Homo sapiens: one gene and its partner. The protein of the gene in region 1 purifies or fractionates together with the protein of each later gene. This does not show direct contact. Each region holds a gene or a part of one and is shown on either strand. Other genes may lie near its edges.

Region 1 (3,500 bases):
CACATGCCCACTGGGGCTTCAGGAGCTGTAAACATTCACCCCTAGATACTGCCGTGTGGCCAGAGCCCCACAGCCTGCCCATCTGTATGCTCTCCTAGAGGTTTGAGCAGCAGGGCACTGAAGAAGCAAGCCACACCCCCACTGCATGCCCTGCGAGGGGGACGAGGGAACTTTTCCCATTTCAGTACTGGCTGCTAACTGGGTTAGTTTGCTCAGTTGGTTACAGTGTGCTAATGAAACTACCAATGCTGATTCAATCCTACATGAAAAGTAACTTCACATGAAAATTCCAAATCCATTTGTCAGAGCGTGTGTAGCTGGACTCACTCCTCTGTGAGTTGCACTTGTTCCAGGCGGTCCATCAACTCTCTGTATTGTCTTTGCTTTATTTCGTTTTCCTGTCTGTTATCCATTTGTTTCAGGAGACTCCGGGAATATTCCTCTTGCTTAAGAGCATTAAGCGCAGGACTGAGTGGCCGTTTGTCAAATAGGAAGGATTTCTAGAATGAAAGAGAAGCAATTCATTTATGCTAGAGTACTGAAAAACAAGGTTAATAATTCAGAAGACTAAGATAAATCAGAAAGTATTTCTTAATTTATAATATTTGCCCAGCCCTCAACACACGGACCAGCTGGTGTTGAGGTAACACATAGAATCATATGAGTGTGTTCAAGGATGAAGCTGAGCTGAGCTGTGTTACCAAAACACCAGGGGTTTGGTCTAGGTGCTCACAGCACAGAAAGCCAATCACTGAGACAATGATTATTGCCAGGGAAGAAGGATTTAATTGGGTGCTGTAGCCAAGGAGATGAGAGATCAGTCTCAAATCCATCTCCTTGACCAACTAAAAGTAGGGGTTTATATAGCAGGGAAGAATTGAAACTATGTATGGGAAAACCAGAATTCGGGAGGGATAAGGAAGCAATCATGGTCAATGGAGGGGCCTGGCTCATTGTCTGAATGCAATCATCTGGTGAGTTTCAATTCTTTGACACTTTTTGGAAGGCCTAGTGGTTCTTTTCTGAGGAAGAAACTCAGATAAAACAATGTTAAGTTTCAAGCTTTAAGACCAAAAGGGTCAATTTCTATGTTTATTTAAAACAAAAACAAAAACAAAACCTGTCTGTGGGACTATTGGGTCAGTTTCAACTGGAATCCCATTGCTGAGACAGAGATGAAAAAGGACTCCTGGAGTAGGTTGTGAGTTAGCATTTACAACATCCAGATGGAAGGAAGAAGGAATTCTGAGTGCATGCGAAATCATGCAAGGACAGAGAGGAGCTGAAAGGAGGGCAAACTGAATACCTACTGTGGGCCTGGCCATTCTAGACCCTGGTGATCCAACAGTGAGCAACAACAGAGATCTTCGCACTCATCAAGCCTGCATGCTGATGCAGGAGACAGACAATGAGCAAGAAACGGTACATCAGGTCATTTAAGATAGTGCTAAGTGCTAGGAAGCCCTTATGATAGCAAGTGGCTGGGTGGGAAAAGAGCTAAACTGGTTGGTTATTAGGGAAGGTTTTTCCATGGAGAAAATGAATCACCTTCACTGTAAATATCAGGGAGACCCGTGTTCCATACAGAAGGAACATTAAGCGCAAAGACACTAGATGGAAACAAGCTAGGCATGTTCAATGAGCAGAAAAAAAGTCTCTGTGGCTGAGGCATAGTGACCAAGGGAAAGGAGAAGGCATAGTGACCAAGAGGAAGGCAGGAGTCAAAGCGTGTAGAATTTGATAGTTGAAGGTGAGGAGTCTAAATTTCATTTTAACTCAATGGGAGGCCAGTGGAGGTTTTAAATGGGAGAATAGTATGTTTTGGTTAACAATATTATAATATCACTTTGGCTGGTGTGTGGAGAATAAATTATAGGAGAGCAAGAATGCAAGCAGTGAATCTAAGGGAAGTATTGGAGAAGTTGAGCATAACAATGTGGCTTGGCAACACTTTCAGTGTGGCAACATTAAAGATGAAGACATTTGGACAGGTATTGGATACATTTTGGAGGTAAAGGCAACTGGACTTGCAAATGATCGGAAGTCAGGAACAGAGAAAGGAATATTGTGATCATGACTAAATACAGGTTTGTGCAAAAATGGCTGGTTGGTGATGCCACTTACTAACATGAGAAGACAGAAAGGAACAGGTTAAGGAGGGAATCAAAAGTTCTGTTTAGGTCTTTTTAAATTTAAGATGTGTATAGATATATCAAAGAAGAGATACACAGCAGTAATAAATATAATCTGGAGCTTATATATAAAGAGAGAGAAAGATCATGCCTAAATTTCAGAAGCCCCATGCTCGCTCGCTCTCTCCTTCCTTCCCTGTTTCCCTGCCTGGAATGCTCTTCCTCCCTTGATTTCTTTACCTAACTCTTGTATGTCAGAAAGTCTTTCCAGATCTCTGGTCTAGGTTAATGAATCTCTTCTTTTGCTCATATAGTGCCCTTTTTTCAGAGATTTATCATCGCATTTATTATACCACACAGTTGTCTCTTTAAGTGTCTGTCTCTCCCACTAGAGACCTCTTCAGAAGAGGGAACCTTGTATTCCTAGACACCAGCACAGTGGCTGGCCTGGAGGAATTCAATAAATGTTTGATGATGAATAAATAAATTATAATTTATTAGATTTATGTCCGGAGTGTCGACTACCTAGATGGTGATATATAAAGAGGAAGATTCAGGCAGAAATAAAGGTAGGCACATGATGATTGAAAACATTAAAACAAGCAGTGAAGCAGTTGGCTCACCACCATCTGAATCTGAGTTTCTCAAACATTAATGCAAATACAAATCACCTGGGGATGTTATTCCACCATAGATGCCCATTCAGGGAGTCTGGGGTGAGGCCCTAGATTCAGCATTTCCAGCAAGTTCCCAGGCAATGCTGATACTGCTGGTTCTCTTAGGTCCTTGGGCTGGACTTTAGTAGTATACTGCTCCCTCCTCTCCACCCATCCCACGTCCTGGTTGAGAATTACCATAATTAACAAGACCTGCAGTGACTAGTAGGAATGGTACAGTGAATGTGAGTGGTGTGGCTATAGACACTGGACAACACCTGCCCTAGAAGAAAGCTTCAAACTGCACCACCCACTTTTCAACTCCGCTGCTTAAAAAAAATGGCACAACTGGCTGGGCATGGTGGCTCACACTTGTAATCCCAGCACTTTGGGAGGCCAAGACGGGCAGATCATGAGACCAGGAGTTCAAGACCAGCCTGGCCAACATGGCGAAACCCTGTCTCTACTAAAAATACAAAAATAGCGGGGCATGGTGGCGGGTGCCTGTAATCCCAGCTACTCGGGAGGCTGAGGCAGGAGAATGACTTGAACCCGGGAGGCAGAGTTGCAGTGAGCTGAGACCACACCATTGCACTGCAGCCTGGGTGACGGAGCAAGACTCCATCTCAAAAAATAAAAATAAAAAATAAGGCACAACCTGCAACACAGGGAGTGGATCCAAAGGCTCACAGATGGGCCAGGTGTTAGCAAC
Region 2 (4,127 bases), on another chromosome or scaffold:
TTCACTTCCCCAGGTACCCAGCCCCTGCCCCCAGCACCTGGGTGCTCCCTGGTCCAGAACAGGCTGCAGACTCTGAGAGGCACAAAAACAAGTGGGGAAGGGGGAGACAGAGAAAAGAAGACAGGCTGGGCACAGTGGCTCACGCCCATAATCCCAGCACTTTAGGAGGCCAAGGCAGGAGGATCACTTGAGCCCAGAAATTTGAGACCAGCCTAGGCAACACAGTGAGACTCCCATCTCTACAAAAAATGAAGAAAATTAGCCAGGCATGGTGGTGTGCACCTGTAGTCCCAGCTACTTGGGAGGCTGAGGTGCAAGGATTGCTCGAGCCTGGGAAGGTTGGGGCTGCAGTGAGCTATGATCGCACTACTGCATTCCAGCCTGGGCGACCCTGTCTCAAAAACAAAAACAAAAGAGAGATGAAGAGAGAAAGGAGGAAGGACCCAAAGAAGGGGCCAGAAGCAGAGAGAGGCCAGGCACAGTGGCTCACGCCTGTAATCCCAACACTTTGGGAGGCCAAGGCAGGAGGGTCGCTTGAGTCCAGGAGTTCCAGACCAGCCTGGGCAACCTAGTGAGACCCTATCTCTGTTTTTTTTTAATTAAATATAAAAAATACAACACTCCCACTCCATAGCAAGACCCCATTTCTACAAAAAATACAAAAATTAGCCAGGCATGGTAGTGTGCACCTGTAATCCCAGCTACTCAGAAGGCAGAGGTGGGAGGATAGCTTGAGCCCAGGCTACAGTGAGCTGTTTTCCCCACCGTACTCCAGCCTGGGTGAAAAGTGAGACCCTGTCTCAAAAAGAAACAAATATATAAATAAAATAAAGAAACACAGAGAGAGGGAGGATAGAGACCCCAGGAGGCAGGAGGACAGAGACCCAGAGGAGGGAGAGACTCTGCTGAGATAAGGGGACAGAGATGGGGAGTAGCAGGAAGGTGGGGACAAAGACCCAGAGAGGAGGAACAAGAGACCCAGGGCAGGAAATGGGAGACACAGCTGGATGCAGAGATGGGAGAGCTTAGCAGGCCATGAGGTCAGAGTGTCTGTGAGGTCAGCTGCTGTCCAGGGTCAGCCCTGAGGTCCCCATGCCCAGAGGTGGGTTCCAGTAGATCAGGGGTCCCTTTAGATCCCCCAGCGCCTGAGACATGGAGACCTGGGAGGGACTGCCCCATGAGTCCTTGGTGCCCACAAATTCCAAGGCCCCTCAGGTACCAGAGCATGTGTCCCAGTGGAGCAGGTGAGGGAGACAGGGACAGAGAGAGAGACAGAAAGCCACCTTACATGAAGCGGGAGTGGGTGGAGCCCCACCCCTGGAACTTCCTCTTTTGGGGTTCTTCCTTTCTCTCTCAGCTCTCCGTCTCTCTTTCTCTCTCAGCCTCTTTCTTTCTCCCTGTCTCCCCCACTGTCAGCACCTCTTCTGTGTGGTGAGTGGACCGCTTACCCCACTAGGTGAAGATGTCAGCCCAGGAGAGCTGCCTCAGCCTCATCAAGTACTTCCTCTTCGTTTTCAACCTCTTCTTCTTCGTGAGTTGCCTCATGGCTACCCAGCCGGGGCCCAGCCCCTGCCGCTAACCCAGCCCTCATCTTCCCCTGTGGCCCACCCCCGTATCCGCATCTCCTCTCCCCAGGTCCTCGGCAGCCTGATCTTCTGCTTCGGCATCTGGATCCTCATTGACAAGACCAGCTTCGTGTCCTTTGTGGGTGAGGGGGGCTGGGGCAGGTGGGAGGGCCTCCCCCAACCCAAGCAACTTCCTGGGGTCTCCCTTGTCTCAGGGAGACCTACGGTGCCCTACTCTGCAGGCAGGCTACAGGCTCCCATCCACTGCTCACCGGAGGCTTCTTGGAGCCTGAGTCTTCTTCCGGCAAATGGGGTTGTGCATACAAACAACAATGATCATGAGAGCCATTTCTCAAGCACTTCCTATCTGTCGGGACTTGTGGCTGGTCAGATGCCCCCACAAACCTTCCCCTCGCTTGAGGTTCAGAGAGGGGAAGCCCCTTGATGGATGTCATACAGCAAGGACGTAAAAGAGCCAAAATAACATTAATAATAGGAAAATAATAATGAAGTATGACCCTAAATAATAATGAAATATAACCCTAAACGCTCATATTTAAGAAGTCTTTGCCCTGTGTTGAGGACTGGGTTGAACACATGTCCTCATGTGTCTCTCAAAATGACCCTAGGGGCCGGGCGCGGTGGCTCACACCTGTAATTCCAGCACTTTGGGAAGCCGAGGCAGGTGGATCACTTGAGGTCAGGAGTTCGAGAATAGCCTGGCCAACATGGTGAAACCCTGTCTCTACTCAAAAATACAAAACGTTAGCCAGGCATGGTGGCACATGCCTGTAGTCGCAGCTACTAGGGAGGCTGAGGCAGGAGAATCACTTGAACCTGGGAGGCAGAGGTTGCAGTGAGCCGAGATCACATCACTGCACTCCAGCCTGGGGGACAGAGCGAGGCTCCAACTCAAAAAAAAACCCTAAGAAATAGATATCATCTCCTATGCCTCAGGGAGGTTTAAGGAGCCAAGCCAATGTCACAGAACAAGTGATAGGGCTGAAACTACTGGGGACGAGGAGGAGCTGAAGGAGGAAGGAGAGGGTAAGAGGAAGAGAGACAGAGATCCAGGGACGGGAAACAGGCCCAGAAAGAAGAGAAAGTTTCAGAAGGAAACAGGGACTCAGGGTGGGGCAGGGACAGAGTCCCAGAGAGAGGGGCACCAAGATACTGCTCCCCACTTGGGTGGCTGCCTAGGTGGGAAATGGGGCTGCCTGGAGCTGTGCCACACAGCTCATCATCACTCCCCTCACCTCTCCCAGGCTTGGCCTTCGTGCCTCTGCAGATCTGGTCCAAAGTCCTGGCCATCTCAGGAATCTTCACCATGGGCATCGCCCTCCTGGGTTGTGTGGGGGCCCTCAAGGAGCTCCGCTGCCTCCTGGGCCTGGTGAGTGCACCATCCCTCTCCGTCCCTAGGAACACTCCTATCCCCACCCTCAAAAATGGCCTGGGCCGGGGTTGCAGGGGTGGTCAGCCTGATCTCTCCACTCTGCTCCCCAGTATTTTGGGATGCTGCTGCTCCTGTTTGCCACACAGATCACCCTGGGAATCCTCATCTCCACTCAGCGGGCCCAGGTGAGCTTCCTGCAGTGGCCACCACCCACCCCCAGCAGGGAGGAGAGGGAAGGGAGTGGTGGGAGAGGGTGGAGAGAGACCGAAACAAGGGCAGACAGGGGCTAACCTAGATAAAGAGAAATAAGAGGCTGGGCCTGGTGGCTCACGCCTGTAATCCCATAATCCCAGCACTTTGGGAGGCTGAGGTGGGAGTCCAGGAGTTTGAGACCAGCCTGGGCAACATAGTGAGACCCCATCTATATTTAAAAAAAAAATCCGGGTGTGATGGTGTGCACCTGGGGTCCCAGCTACTTGGGAGGTCGAGGTGGGAGGATCACTTGAGCCAGGGAGTTTGAGGCTACAGTGAGCCATGCACTCAGCCTGGGTGACAGAGTGAGACCCTGTCTCAAAAAATAAATTAATAGAAAGACACACCGACCTGGACCAAGGGAGACAGGCATAAACAGCTCCAAAGGGAAACACACGGGAAAAAGAGAGAACAAGAGAAAGAAATAGACGCCCTGAAAGAAGAGACAGAGACTTATGAGCCGTAGAAATAGTGGAAGAAACAGAAAGACAGACCTGAAGTACACAGAGCTAGCCATTCAGTAAGGATTTGAGACTGGCCCAGAGATGCACAGGGCCCGCCTGAGGCTGGCACAGCCTGAGAGGGGGAGGGGTGGGGCGGGGAAGATAAGGCCCAGCCTCACTGGTGGCCTCTCAGCTGGAGCGAAGCTTGCGGGACGTCGTAGAGAAAACCATCCAAAAGTACGGCACCAACCCCGAGGAGACCGCGGCCGAGGAGAGCTGGGACTATGTGCAGTTCCAGGTAAGCCCCCCTCCTCCAGTTCCCTCCCGGACTGACCCGCCTCAGCCCTGTGCTTGGAGGAGACTCCACCCCAACGTGGGCCCGACCCCCAGCTCTACGATCCTAACACACCCCAATCCCTCCCAGGCCCGACGCTCCCCACTCCCCAGATGACACAACTGTCCCCGGCGTCGCCT

The links. The genes of interacting proteins can lie anywhere in the genome.
Region 2: the proteins of CCDC81 (region 1) and CD37 purify together in Homo sapiens (co-immunoprecipitation; one study listed by IntAct). This does not show direct contact.

What each region holds. Positions count from the first base shown.
Region 1 is NC_000011.10:86,409,387-86,412,886, reverse strand, and holds part of CCDC81 (coiled-coil domain-containing protein 81), read right to left. Parts: intron 501-3,500; coding exon 328-500; intron 1-327.
Region 2 is NC_000019.10:49,334,079-49,338,205, forward strand, and holds the start of CD37 (leukocyte antigen CD37), read left to right. Parts: upstream 1-1,327; 5' UTR 1,328-1,462; coding exon 1,463-1,531; intron 1,532-1,635; coding exon 1,636-1,708; intron 1,709-2,830; coding exon 2,831-2,955; intron 2,956-3,068; coding exon 3,069-3,143; intron 3,144-3,846; coding exon 3,847-3,951; intron 3,952-4,127. UniProt on the Homo sapiens protein: Structural component of specialized membrane microdomains known as tetraspanin-enriched microdomains (TERMs), which act as platforms for receptor clustering and signaling.